4 linked regions of the Homo sapiens genome follow. The protein of the gene in region 4 purifies or fractionates together with the protein of the main gene of each other region. This does not show direct contact. Each region holds a gene or a part of one and is shown on either strand. Other genes may lie near its edges.

What was found.
Region 1: the proteins of TES (region 4) and SH3BGRL purify together in Homo sapiens (affinity purification with mass spectrometry, with the first as the bait; one large-scale study listed by BioGRID). This does not show direct contact.
Region 2: the proteins of TES (region 4) and TRAFD1 purify together in Homo sapiens (affinity purification with mass spectrometry, with the first as the bait; one large-scale study listed by BioGRID). This does not show direct contact.
Region 3: the proteins of TES (region 4) and TUBAL3 purify together in Homo sapiens (affinity purification with mass spectrometry, with the first as the bait; one large-scale study listed by BioGRID). This does not show direct contact.

The regions. Positions count from the first base shown.
Region 1 is NC_000023.11:81,296,102-81,299,047, reverse strand, and holds the end of SH3BGRL (adapter SH3BGRL), read right to left. Parts: intron 1,854-2,946; coding exon 1,821-1,853; 3' UTR 501-1,820; downstream 1-500. UniProt on the Homo sapiens protein: Appears to function as an adapter protein that bridges proteins together or proteins with mRNAs. May function as a ubiquitin ligase-substrate adapter.
Region 2 is NC_000012.12:112,135,560-112,139,059, reverse strand, and holds part of TRAFD1 (TRAF-type zinc finger domain-containing protein 1), read right to left. Parts: intron 1-3,500. UniProt on the Homo sapiens protein: Negative feedback regulator that controls excessive innate immune responses. Regulates both Toll-like receptor 4 (TLR4) and DDX58/RIG1-like helicases (RLH) pathways.
Region 3 is NC_000010.11:5,402,029-5,405,999, forward strand, and holds the start of TUBAL3 (tubulin alpha chain-like 3), read right to left. Parts: upstream 2,801-3,971; 5' UTR 2,765-2,800; coding exon 2,762-2,764; intron 1-2,761. UniProt on the Homo sapiens protein: Tubulin is the major constituent of microtubules, a cylinder consisting of laterally associated linear protofilaments composed of alpha- and beta-tubulin heterodimers.
Region 4 is NC_000007.14:116,234,539-116,238,038, reverse strand, and holds part of TES (testin), read right to left. Parts: coding exon 3,420-3,500; intron 2,172-3,419; exon of another isoform or gene 1-2,171. UniProt on the Homo sapiens protein: Scaffold protein that may play a role in cell adhesion, cell spreading and in the reorganization of the actin cytoskeleton. Plays a role in the regulation of cell proliferation. May act as a tumor suppressor. Inhibits tumor cell growth.

The sequences.
Region 1 (2,946 bases), on a different chromosome or scaffold from region 4:
AATAAAATATTTCAGTTTAGGAAGACTCAATTCAACCTTTTACTTTAATATACTATGTTAATTTTAAGTTATATAAACATGGCAAAAAATACATCTATTTTTAAAGAATGCCCATTTTGGCAGTGTTAACTTATTTGACATTAAAATAAAAGTGAAAATGACCACATAAAATATTGCAAGTATCATCAGCAACATTTAATAAAGCTTAGGAGAAAATATTGACTAAAAAACTTTTTTTGCGTTTCCAGTGTATTACAAAGCACCCTGTTTTCTCTAGAGTTCTTTATGCCGTATTTTTGTAAACCCAATAAAATTGTTCATTTGACCTCATGTGTATTGTGAGATTAAAAGCCCTAAAAAGAAAACATAGAAAACGAAAACCTTGAATTGCATTCAAAGCTTTTTCTTTCTACTATTTTCTCTTTTTGCATTCCCAACCCTCTAAAAAAAGATATTACTCATCTAAAATTACTATTATATAAACTCCAAGAACACATAAGTTATGTTTCTAAAAGTACTGAGTTTATTTTAAAGCATAGCATCAAGTTTGAATCTCATGAAACAAAGGCATCTCTTCATTATATGTTGATTTTGGCAAAAAGTAAAGACCAGCATACAATAGATATACATGATAATGTAGTTTAAAGTAAGAGGTGTTTGCTTTTGGTAATAAGGTAGTGTGAAACTTACTATGTAAATCTATGTTGGTTATTTAGGCCATGTTTCTTGTCTTTTTAGAAGTCTTCAGGCTTAATATTTTAAAAGTTGCCCTTTTTATTTGATACTTCTACTTTTTGCTGGAATAGAGGCATAGAAAAGATTCTCACTGCTTAGACTAATACACTCATACAATACATGGCTAAACTGAAATAAAAAGGTAAGATATCTTAGGAATAGTAGCATTTACGATTGTGAGTTGTTTTAAACGGGCAAAACTACTAAGATTTGTTTTAGCAAAAACTCAAGGGAAACCAATCTTGGGAAATGATCGCCAACCTGTTTTATAAGAGTTATTTAAAAGTCTAATCTCTTTGCTAGAGAATGCCATTTTAAGCTTACTTGGCATCCCACTTTCATGATATACATATGCATATTTCACTGAGGCAAGGAACTTGGATATATCATTCCATCATAGCTGTGTAGTTAAACAAGGAACTTGTCCACTGAATGAATCTATTGCTTTTGTGCGTGTAAAAGGATATCTATTCTGATCACTGAAATGTGCAATGAAAGGCTACATTTAGAAGCTCAGAAAATCTGTGGTTCAATATGTAGAAGTTTCATCTACAAAAGAATGGGAATGTTATAATTACGATAGGAAATTACAACGTTTAACATATCATAAACATTACCTGCAAGAACTTTTTAATCGCAGTAATATAGCATCAAAAAGGTACATATTCTTGTTCATGAAAATTAATGAGGCAACTTAGGAATGAGAGACAGGTTATTTCTCTTTCTCCTTTTTAATGTAGAGCTGCAGATACACTTAAGTTGCCATAGTAATGGCAGAAGGAGGGAAGGGTGTTTTCTTTGTAAAATCATTGGTGTATACAGGATGGCTTGGCAGGTAACAACACTATTTCTACGATATCTACTTATTAATATAATTTTATGTTAATATCCCATTCTCCTCACCATAATCACCATAATGTTCAAATTTTAATTTTGTATTCATTTTGAATGTTTGCATGTGAAAACCCAACTAATCTATTATTTCAACATTAAGCCTATTTCTTTTGAAGCAAAGCTAATTCTGCTATTTTATAAAAGCAATGGAGACTCATTTTTCAGGATGCTTAAAGCACAGTGCTTAAGGTTCATGCTTGCTGCTTTGCTTGCACTTCTGCTTCCTGAAATGAAAAACAAACAAAACAGATAAGTTTAAACATCACAGAGCAGACACCCATGTGTATTTTAGTCAGACTACATTAGTTCCAACTACTAAGAATAAACAAAAGCCCCCAGAAGAGATTTCTTAAAAAGTTCTTAATAGAAAAACTATATAATACAAACAGATTTCTAGAAACAGATACACAAAAAGACTACCTAATCATTCCTAATGATTTGGAATACTTTCATGAAAGCAAGTGATATACAATTATAATTGATATTTTACTTAAAAATAGTCAGTTTCCTTTTTGTGTGATTTTTTTTCATGAAAATTGAGAATATAAAAACATGGTTACTTAAGTTTAAAATTAGTTGGGTTTTGGTTAATTAAGGTTTAAATTACTTAGAAAATGTGCTATCCATTAAAATATTGTAGTTTTCATGTTTTATGATAGAATACACACCAAAAAATCAGGTTGTCTTCCTTCTCCTCTGGATAGTGAGGTACTCACCTCTAGCATAGGAACTCTGACCTACTTGACACAAAATAAACTTCAAGGAAAGTTTGTTGAACTAAAGATGAGTGGCAAGATTGACTCCAGAAAAGGAAACATCAGACTTAAGTTGTAGAAATCAAGCGTGGTAGACAACATCATTCTAAACACCTGTCACTAAATCAATACTTGACAGTCTCAGGAGGACTGATACTGTCCAAATGAGTCCCAGTATTACATGCAAAAGAAGGGAGAAAAGCTAAAAGAGACACTAGATTTTTACCCAAAAAAGGCAAAAGTAGAGGAAAGAAGAAAATATTAAATGACACCAAAATTCATTCTTCATATCCTTTAAAAAAATAACGAAATATACTACTGACTCATTGATATGGTTTGGCTCTGTGTCCCCACCGAAATCCCATGTCAAATTGCAATTCCCAGTGTTGGAGGAGCAGCCTGCTGGGAGGATATTTGATCATGAGGGCAGTTTCTAATGGCTTAGCACCATCCTCCTACTGCTGCTTGTCTAAAAGTGTGTAGCACCTCTCCCTCTCTCTCCTGCCACCAGGCGAGGACGTGCTTCCTTCCCCTTCACCCTTTGCCATGATTGTAAGTTTCC
Region 2 (3,500 bases), on a different chromosome or scaffold from region 4:
AGCTGGTATACAATTTTAAAGCCCAAAAAGGATATATGTAAAAATCATGTCTCTTCTCCCCTGTTCCTCTGCTACCTAAGGCCTTTTTATCAATTTATTGTGTTTCCTGCAAGAGGTAGTTCATGTATATACAAACAGTGCTGAAAATGTTGGAGTAGCATTTAGAATAGAACTTTAGTTTAATTTTTTTTTTTTTTTTTTTGAGACGGAGTTCGCTTCTGTTGCCCAGGCTGGAGTACAATGGCATGATTTCGACTCAGTGCAACCTCTGCCTCCTGGGTTCAAGCAATTCTCCTGCCTCAGCCTCCCAAGTAGCTGGGATTACAGGAGCCTACCACCACACCTGGCTAATTTTTGTATTTTTAGTAGAGATGGGGTTTCACCACTTTGGCCAGTCTGGTCTTGAACTCTTGACCTCATGTGATCTGCCTGCCTCAGCCTCCCGAAGTGCTGGGATTACAGGCGTGAGCCACCACGCCCAGCATTTTTTGTTTTTGTTTTTGTTTTTTTTTGAGACAGTCTCACTCTGTTGCCCAGGCTGGAGTGCAGTGGTGTGATCTTGGCTCACTGCAACCTCTGCCTCACAGGTTCAAGCAATTATCCTGCCTCAGCCTCCCGAGTAGCTGGAATTACAGGCATGCGGCACCATGCCTGGCTAATTTCTGTATTTTTAGTAGAGATGGGGTTTCACCATGTTGACCAGGCTGGTCTTGAACTTCTGACCTCAAGTGACCCGCCCTCCTCTGCCTCCAAAAGTGCTGGGATTACAGGCTGAGTCATTGCGCCTGGCCTACCTTTTTATTTTTATTTTTATTTTTTTGAAACAGGGTCTTACTTTGTCGCCTAGGCTGGAATGCAGTGGCACAAACAGGGCTCACTGCAGCCTCAACCTCCAGGCTCAAACAATATCGTACCTCAGCCCCTCGAGCAATTGGGACTACAGGAACGGACCACCATTCCCAGCTAATTTTTTAGTTTTTTGTAGAGATAGGGGTCTCACGATATTGCCTAGACTGGTCTTGAACTCTTTGGTTTAAGCAATGCTCTCGCCTTGGCCTCCCAAAGTGCTAGGATACAGGCATGAGTCACTGTAGCCCGCTGTGAATTACCTTTAAGGGTAATTTAATTATAAATTAATAAAATCAAGTTGTTACAGTTTGAGGCACACAGAATGAAATGCACAAATCTTTAAGTATATACCTTGGTGAATTTTTACATATGTATATCCACTCTTCTATAACTACCATATAAACAGCTGTTTGGATTTTTATTTATTTATTTTTATTTATTTATTTTTTTAGACGGAGTCTCGCTCTGTCGCCCTGACTGAAGTGCAGTAGCGCAACCTCGGCTTACTGCAAGCTCCGCCTCCCGGGTTCACGCCATTCTCCTGCCTCAGCCTCCCAAGTAGCTGGGACTATAGGCGCCCGCCACCACGCCCAGCTAATTTTATGTATTTTTAGTAGAGACGGGGTTTCACCGTATTAGCCAGGATGGTCTCAATCTTCTGACCTCGTGATCCGCCCGCCTCAGCCTCCCAAAGTGCTGGGATTACAGGCGTGAGCCACTGCGCCCAGCCAAGAAATGAAGATCAAGGCTGAGGGATGCTCCCTACTGAATGGGAAAACTGTCCTTGGTTCCACATGGGCTGTAGACACAGCCCTTCTGCCAGCAACTGTTCCTGCAAGGAACTTGTGCTCAACTGAACAAACTGTCACGTGGTTCCTTGAAGGGGCACAGCACTGATTTCACTTGCATTATAAAAGACTGAGTGGTGCTTTTGACTGTTTATGTCAACACTTGAAAACAAGGTGAGCCAGTTTTTTTTTGTTTGTTTTAGATGGAGTCTCACCCTGTCACCCAGGCTGGAGTGCAATGGCACGATCTCGGCTCACTGCAACCTCCACCTCCCAGGTTCAAGCAATTCTCCTGCCTCAGCCTTCTGAGTAGCTGGGATTTCAGACGTGCGTATCCACGCCCAGCTAATTTTTGTATTTTTAGTAGAGACGGGGTTTCACCATATTGGCCAGGCTGGTCTCGAACTCCTGACCCTGTGATCCACCCACCTCAGCCTCCCAAAGTGCTGGGATTACAGGCATCAGCCATCACGCCCGGCTGGATTTTTAAATTGGTGAATTAACATACTCATTCAACGTTGGCCAGTTTTGGCCAGATGCCATAGCTCACGCCTGTAATCTCGACATTTGGGAAAGCCAAGAAGGGAGGATCACTTGAGGCCAAGAGTTCGAGACTAGCCTGGGCAACATAACAAGACCCCAACTCTATGAAAAACAAAAATAAATAAAATTAGTCAGGCATAGAGGCCTATACCTGTAGTACCACCTATGCAGGTAGATCATTTGAGCCCAAGAATTCGAGGCTGCAGTGAGTTATGATCATGCCATTGCATGCTAGCCTGGGTGACAGAGTGAGACTGTGTCTCTTAAAAAAGGTTTTTAATTAAAAAAAAGAAAAATGACCGGGCATGGTGGCTCACGCCTTTAATCCTAGCACCTTGAGGGGCCAAGGTGGGTGGATCACCTGAGGTCAGGAGTTCAAGATCACCCTGGCCAACATGGCAAAATCCTGTCTCTACTAAAAATACAAAAAAAATTAGCCAGGCATGGTAGAGCACGCCTATAACCCCAGCTACTCAGGAGGCTGAGGAAGGAGAATCGCTTGAACCTGGGAGGTGGAGGTTACAGTGAGCCAAGACTGCACCACCGCACTCCAGCCTGCAAGACGGGAACAAGATTCCATCTCAAAAAAAAAAAAAAAACTTTGGGCTGAGTACAGTGGCTCATGCCTGTAATCCTAGCACTTTGGGAGGCTGAGGCAGGAGGACCACTTGAGCCCAGGAGTTCAAGACCAACCTGTGCAACACAGCAATAGAGACAACACCTGTCTCTATTTTTTGGGTTTTTTTTTTTTGAGATGTAGTCTCACCCTGTCATCCAGGCTGGAGTGCAGTGGCGCGATCTCGGCTCACTGCAACCTCTGCCTTCCGGATTCAAGCGATTCTCGTGCCTCAGCCTCCCAAGTAGCACACACCTCCACGCCCAGCTAATTGTTGTATTTTTAACAGAGACAGGGTTTCACCATGTTGGCCAGGCTGGTCTCAAACTCTGACCTCAAGTGATCTGCCCACCTCTGCCTCTCAAAGTGCTGGGATTACAGGCATGAGCCACCATGCCCAGCCGACCCTGTCTGTATTTAAAAAAAAAAAAAAAAAAACCTTTGGCCAGTTTTATCTCAACTAGCGAGCAAATGATACTCTATTCTCTCTCACCAAATGCTGAGGAATTTCTTAGGTTAAATAGCATGTTATCCAGGTGTTCAAGATTTTAAAATGAAGCCAGATGTGGTGGCTCACGCCTGTAATCCCAGCACTTTGGGAGGCTGAAGACAGGCAGATCACAAGGTCAGGCCAACATGGTGAAATCCCGTCTCTACTAATAATTAGCTGGGAGTGGTGGTGGGCGCCTATAATCCCAGCTACT
Region 3 (3,971 bases), on a different chromosome or scaffold from region 4:
TAAGTAAAAAGCACATAAGATGCATGATTGCATATAGAGTATGATGTCCAATATGTTCAAAAATAGGCATAAAAATCTAAAAGAAAATGCATCAAGATATTAAGTTTAGTAATATCTGGGTAGTGATTTTATTTTCTTGTCTAAACTTTACTATTTCTTCCACCTTCATATTCCCCCATCCCACTTTAAATCATCTTTTTTTTAAGGCAAACAACTATTCTGTTAAACAGACAATGATCTACGTTTTTAAGAGAAGGAAAGAAAAAAAATGAGAAGGAAAGTAAAAGCTAAATTCTAAGAAATCTGAGGTGATAGCAATCGCTGTTCTTAATATTGGTGTGGTTTGATTGACTGTGGTGCTGAAACAAATCTATTTAGAGGGTCTTGTAGAATGAGACCCCCATGTCTTCTGCATCATCAGGACCCTTTGGGCTGTTTGACCAGATAAGCTGAGGGGAGCCCTGCCCTTGTTCATGGCTACACTGCCCTAAAGCCTGAGATTCAACTACTGAAAGACCTCAGGCCTCCTGTCAATCCCTCACCTGTGGTCTACACAGGGGTCCCCAACCCCCGGGCCACAGACCAGTACCAGTCTGTGCCCTGTTAGGAACTGGGCTTTACAGAAGGAGGTGAGCAGCAGGTGAGTGAGCATTACTGACTGAGCTCTGCCTCCTGTCGGATCAGCGGCAGCATTAGATTCTCATAGGGGCACTAACCCTATTGTGAACTGCGCATGCAAGGGATCTAGGTTGTGTGCTCCTTATGAGAATCTAACTAATGCCTGACGATCTGAGGTGGAACAGTTTCATCCAGAAACCATCCCCACTGCCGACTCCATGGAAAAATTGTGTCCCACAAAACTGGTTCCTGGTGCCAAAAAGTTGAGGACCACTGGTCTACACAGACCACTAGTCAGAGGAAAGTAAGGAGAGGGCTCTGGTCGGCCACACCCCTGCAATCTGACTTGGACTCTGTTCATGCTCAATGGCATCAAACCTTTGTACTTTGTCTCTGTGATTCACAAGGCATAACAGCCCTCTGCTTCATGACCAATTCAAGTTCACTACCTTAGTAGGGCTTCCATCTTGTTTATTTTCTGTGCAACTATCAGTCTCTCTAATTTAGAAAGCACTTCATTTAGGACAAACTAATATTCCACCTCTCAAGACAGCATATTCTGTTATAAACAGGCTTCGAATACCCCTTATCAGGCTTCAGATAACCTTAATCTTATTCCTCTCCCCTTCTGTCGGACTTAAAGTGCTGCAAATACATCAGCTGCTGTAATCTGATCAAAACTTGGCTCCTTAAATTTAAGTTAACATTTTAAAAGGAGAGGGTGAACGTTCATTGTTTCTACATCATTAAAACCTCTTACTTTGTAAAGTTTACATGTAGATTTCTCTGTCTTCTCCACTGGCTACCACCCAGTCCTGTGTTACAGTGACGAGTAAAATTCAGGTGTACATGTGGTATTTGTTCATAATAGTCACAGTAAAAATAATCACTAACATTAAAAAAAAAAAAGATTGTTCCTCTTCACGTGGTCTGTTCAAGTGACTCAGAAAGCAGAGTGATGCTGTTCTTTTTGAAATCAGCACGAATAGCCTGGACTAACAAGCATCCTTCGTCTTTGAAGGAGCTTAGCTTATAACATAACTCTGTCCAAGGGTGTAGAAGACTATCTTTGCCTTATTCTTCTCTTAGCCTCTCCCTTTTTTTCCAAATTCTCTATGAAAATATTAGTCACACTATAAAGTAGAAGACTATAAAATGTCCACTGAACGTCAACACTGATAAGTCATAGCACATTATTAAACGCTGCTATAAGGATTATTTGAATTACTAGAAAAGCATAACTCTCAGTTAAACTTTCAATTTTGAGGTCTTTGTAGATTGATATGCAGCTGTGAGAAATAACATAGGAAGATCCCTTGCATCCGTTACCCATTTCCCGCAGTGGAAACATCTTGCAAGACCATAATACAAAATCACACCCAGAATGTTGACAGTGATAAGATACAGAACATGCTATTATCACAAGTCTCTCTCATGTTGAAAGGCATAATTTTTAAAAGCAAAACAATTTAAAATTTTTTAAATGTTGGACAGAGAGACCAATGGGGTGAGAAATCAAAGATCAAGAAGCAGTTCGAAATGTTGCTTCCATTGAAGAATTAAAAATTCAAAGATACTGAAAAACTGGCACAGAAAAAAATAAAGGGCAAATGGATCTGAAAAGGTCATCCCAAAACAGAATTATTGTAAGTTATTCTATTCATTGTGGTGCCCAAAGAACTAAACTCAAGGGAGGGCAAAGAAGATGTCTGCGCACTTTACCCTGCCAGGCATTTATGAGGTTAGCCACGGTTACCTAAGTCTGAAGTCCTCAGAAACTCTTAACAGCCTAACGAAAAGTGAAGCAATGAATATCTACAGAAAAATCAGCACTCTGGGCCTAAAACAAAGGTGAAAACTAAAGGAAGGAAAGGTTTTTGCTTCAGTGCTTCAATTAATGGCAGTGAGCTACTGCAAATCAACTGAGCTTTACCTTGAAAGAAGCAACATTACAGAGGAATAGATTACAGCCTGTCCACATCTGCTCCCAACTCATCTACTTGGACATTGAAAGAAACAAATGTTTCTTTACAAATGTCTTCTCTTGCATTACAATTTTATTAAGAATTGTTTGCTGTGGGAAAAGGGCCAAATATGATTAGTAAAATTTCCTACAACAATGCATAGGCGTGTAGTCACTTACCATGCTGATGAGAACGTGCCCTTCCTGCCCTGTAGTAATGACTGAGGAGCCTCCCAGCTGAGCTTTATCACAGGGCCCGGAAATGACTCCACCTGAGGGCTGGAGCTTTCTTCACTTAAAGCAGTATAGCTTCTTTTTAGTTTTTTTAGTTATCTGGTCTCAGAGTAGCTGTGTTGGGCCTGAACAACCCGGGATAAAGTTTGTACACAGCTGCAGATGAACTACTGAGAGCTTATCCAAATCTGCGTCCAACTTATAACTATGTTGAAAAGAACATGTGTCTTTTAAAAATCACCCTTTTGGGTTAAGAATTTATTTAGCATTGGCAGAGAAAAGGAAGGAGTATGAGTAAAATTTTCTGCAACAGCAAAGTAGCTTTTTCTATTGCATGAGTACTATGTGAATATCTTCTTAAATAAATTTAAACAATCCCTGAATACATACAGCAAACCAAGACAGTGTCCTTTTTACATCTGTGTCCTATGCATGCCTCTCAACCACTACCACATCCAAACATATGGGAATTTTCTGTTTTTATTATTATTGTCTTTTGAACTTTTATATTATTATACATAATATATACTTATGTTATTATTTTTTATTAATTGCACTAAGATCAGATCACACATCTTAACTGAGTTCTCTCCTTATATATTTGCTAAAGCTTCCTTTATATTCTACTATATGGTCAATTTTTGAAAATATTCCATGAGTGTTGAAAAGAATGTGCATTCTACATTTGTTGGATGCAATATTTTAGATAGACCGATCATTCAATCAATCAATCTATTAAATCAAATGGATTTATTGTGTAGTCCAAATTTTACGTATCAATTATTTCAAAAGATGTATTAAAAGTTTTCATTATAATTGTGAATTTACCCATTATTTCTTTTTCTGTCAATTTTTCCTTTATACATTTTGAGGCCATGTTATGAAGAGCACATAAATTTTAAATTATTATATTTTCAAAAACTTTAACAATTTTTTATTTTTAAATTACCCTCCTTATATACATTAATTATTTTTACCTTAAAGTTTTTTTTTTTTTTTTTTTGAGATGCAGTCTTGCTCTGTCGTCCAGGTTGGAGTGCAATGGTGCGATCTCAACTCACTGCAACCTCCACCTCCCAGGTTCAAGCGATTCTTCTGCCTCAGCCTCTCAAGTAGCTGGGATTACAGGTGTGTGCCACTATTCCTAGCTAATTTT
Region 4 (3,500 bases):
GCTGTGGGCTGAACTGTGTTTCCTCAAAGTCATATGCTGAAGCTCAAACTCCTAATGTGACTGTATTTGGAGCAGGGGCTTTTAAGAAGTAAAGTTAAAAGATGTCACAAGGTGAACGTCACAATCCATTGGAATAGGTGACCTTATAAGAAAAGGGAGAGAGATCTCTTCCTCTCCAGACACACACACACACACCCACACACACCAAGGAAAGGCCATGTGAGCACGTGGTGAGAAGGCAGCCGTCTGTAAGCCAGGAAGAGAGACCTCACCAGAACTCAACCATGTTGGCACCTGATCTCGAACTTTCCAGCCTCTAGAACTGGAAGAAAGTACATTTCTGTTTAAACTACCAGGTATGTGATATTTTGTTATGGCAGCCTGAAAAGACATACATGGGCAGGGAAGACTTCTCAGAGGTATTTCTTGAGCTGAGACTTTTTGTTTCCTAGTGGTGGGAGGTAGGGTTTTCCAGGCAGAGAACACCATGCAATAAGGCACAAAATTTCAGGGAATAGTATGTATCAAGCACTTGGATCATAGAGTGCTTGGAAGGGAAGTGGAAGAGGCTGGAAAAGCAAGCAGAGGCCAGATGTTAGGGTTTAATGTCAAAGGCCAAGAAATTTGCCTAAAAGAAGTCCAGTGGGAAACTACTGAGGGTTCTTAAGTCATCTGAAGTATGTAATAGTATCCATGTTCAAAAGACCATTCTTGTGATTGTGTGAGAGGCCAGACTAATAAAGAGGTAGAGAATAATTTAACTCTGATTTTTGAAATGTGCCCGATGGAGCCCTCAGGGTCCTAAGTCAAGGATCACCATGAAGCTGGAGGAGGAGGCTAAGTGGGCAGGGTCATGGGATCCCATGTCTACTTCACCCACATAAGTTCTGTGGCCCTAGACTAGACCTGGAATCTTTGTTACACTCAGGACAACTAGTCTAGAATATTTTACTTCAAAGACTGTACTGAAAGAGGCTACATAGGGAGGTCAAAGGCACCTGCTTCAGCTCTTTTAGCTATGGTGAAAAAGTCAGGGAATTATCAAGAATTCTGAGAGAAATGTGACTGGACCCATGCCAGGAAGATGTCAGAACTACTAAGAAATACCAATGGGGTGGACTGTTATCAACCCCAGCTGAATGACAGGCCATATGCAAAGTCCTAGACTATTATGGCTCTTAGATTTTCAGACTACACCCAGTTGATTAAATGAGTCTGTGTGATAAATTGAAATGTAAAAGGTTATTTTCATGCCATGGAGATCTGCTCTTGTCGGATATATTTTCATCTGAAAATATCGATTAAAATGATTAATATAGACATAACAAAAATGACTAACTTGCTTTAGAGAAAAGATGATATCTCTTAGGAATGAGCTTTAAAATCTCACGAGCGGTTTTTGGCAACTGCATAGCAGAACTAAAAAGAATGCAGGTTAAGTATCTCTTACCCAAAATGTTTCACAAGTAAAATAAAACAGAAGTGTATCAGATTTCAAATTTTTTTTAAATTTTGGAATATCTGCATAAACAATGAGATATCTTGGGGATAGGGCCCAAGTTTAAACATAAAATTAATTTCTGTTTCATATACAGCTTATGTACATAAGCTGATGGTAATTTTATACATATTTTAAATAATTTTGTACAAGACACAAAGGTTTGAATGCATTTTTGAATGCAACCTGTCACACGGTCAGGTATGTGAAATTTTCCACTTGTGGCATCGTGTTGACACTCAAGAAGTTTTGGTTTTGGAGCATTTTGGATTTTGGATTTTATGTATTATAAGATTGTAAGGTAAAAACTATGCCCAGGAGAGGGCAGTGCAGCCTTCTGTAAAGTTAACTAATAGGCCCAATAGAAAATAGTGTGAGCATTAAGAGCAGAGATGTTCTAATTCATGAAAACTATTTTGTGTTAAGTCACTTTACCTTTTTAAAACATGAGAGACATACTGCCACTTCTATGTCCCTTGAAGAGACAGCACAAGGGAGAGCTGCTTAAGTCTTGTAAAAAAAAATTCTGGAAAACTTTAGCTCCCTAAAACTGAAGAATTGTATCAAAACTGAAGAACTGTATCAGTTCTAGCAGGTTTCTACTGACTTTCCTATTTTAAACAATTATCTTTGTTTCTGAAAACTGATTCAATAAACTAGTTTTTAAAAGAGATTAATGTCTAAAATTTTATTTGTTTATATTCTCCTTTAATTTACACTGTACACATCTCCAAGAGCTGATGAAAGTATTCTAAACGGTTTCCTGTGGAAATCTGTAGTACAGAAGTGTTTCTCAAATGAGAGTCATCCTAACAAGGTAGCTGCCATCCTAAAACTGTATAGTTATCTTTATTTTTTTTTCCTGCTAATTCTAACTTTGAGCAGACTTGTGAATTACCACTATGGACTTGACAGTCATTCATAAGCACAGGTTTCAAATACTGATTTTAGATTTATATGATATGCAGTAGTACTTTCAAAACAACCTAAAGATAAGATCTATAGAAAATTCACATTTTTGACTCACTAACATTGTCTTGTGTATATATGCACTTCATTCAAACCAAGACACTACAATTAATTTTTTTCTTAAAAAAATTCAAGTGTTTCAATGGTTTTTCACTAGTAACTTTACAGCTAAAAATTTTAAAGAGATCTAAATTCAACTTCATTTCCTGATAACTAACATATACATGCTTGATTCAGTATTCATATTTGTTTACGGAAAATGTAGACATGAGATGTAAAGTTACCAATTTTTAAGAAGAGAATAATTAAATTATTAAACAGGGCCAGGCATGGTGGCTCACGCCTGTAATCCCAGCACTTTGGGAGGTTGAGGTGGGCTGATCACTTGAGGTCAGGAGTTTGAGACCAGCCTTGCCAACATGGCGAAACCCCATCTCTACTAAGAATACAAAAAAGAAAAATTAGCCAGGTGTCGTGGCACAAGCCTGTAATCTCAGCTATTCAGGAGGCTAAGGCAAGAGAATCGCTTGAACCAGGAAGCGGAGGTTGCAGTGAGCTGAGATCACACCACTGCACTCCAGTCTAGGTGACAGAATGAGACTTCGTCTCAAAAAAAAAGTAACAAATAAATTATTAAACAGTCCTGGAGGATTACCACAAACTTATTTACCACCAGAAAGATGATATATTCAGTATTTCAGGCTCGAAGGAAATCTTAAAGACAGCAAGCAAATCCAACAACTCTAAATAGTTATTATGGTCCAATTCACTAAGTCAAACTTAATGACAGTAAGACAGAACACTTTTTATGTTGTATTCATTTCTCAGAAAAGACAGTAACAGGTCTGCAACTTAGCAACCATGCTGGAGAACTCGAAGATATCTCCACTGTCTGAGGAAGTATTGCAAAAAGTATAAATTACTAATGTGGTTGCAGTTTTCAAAACAATACCTCCAGAAGTGCAGTTCGAATCCTTCACATTTTTCTTTGCATTTTAAACAAGGGGCTCCAAATCCTTGCTCGTGACCTAAG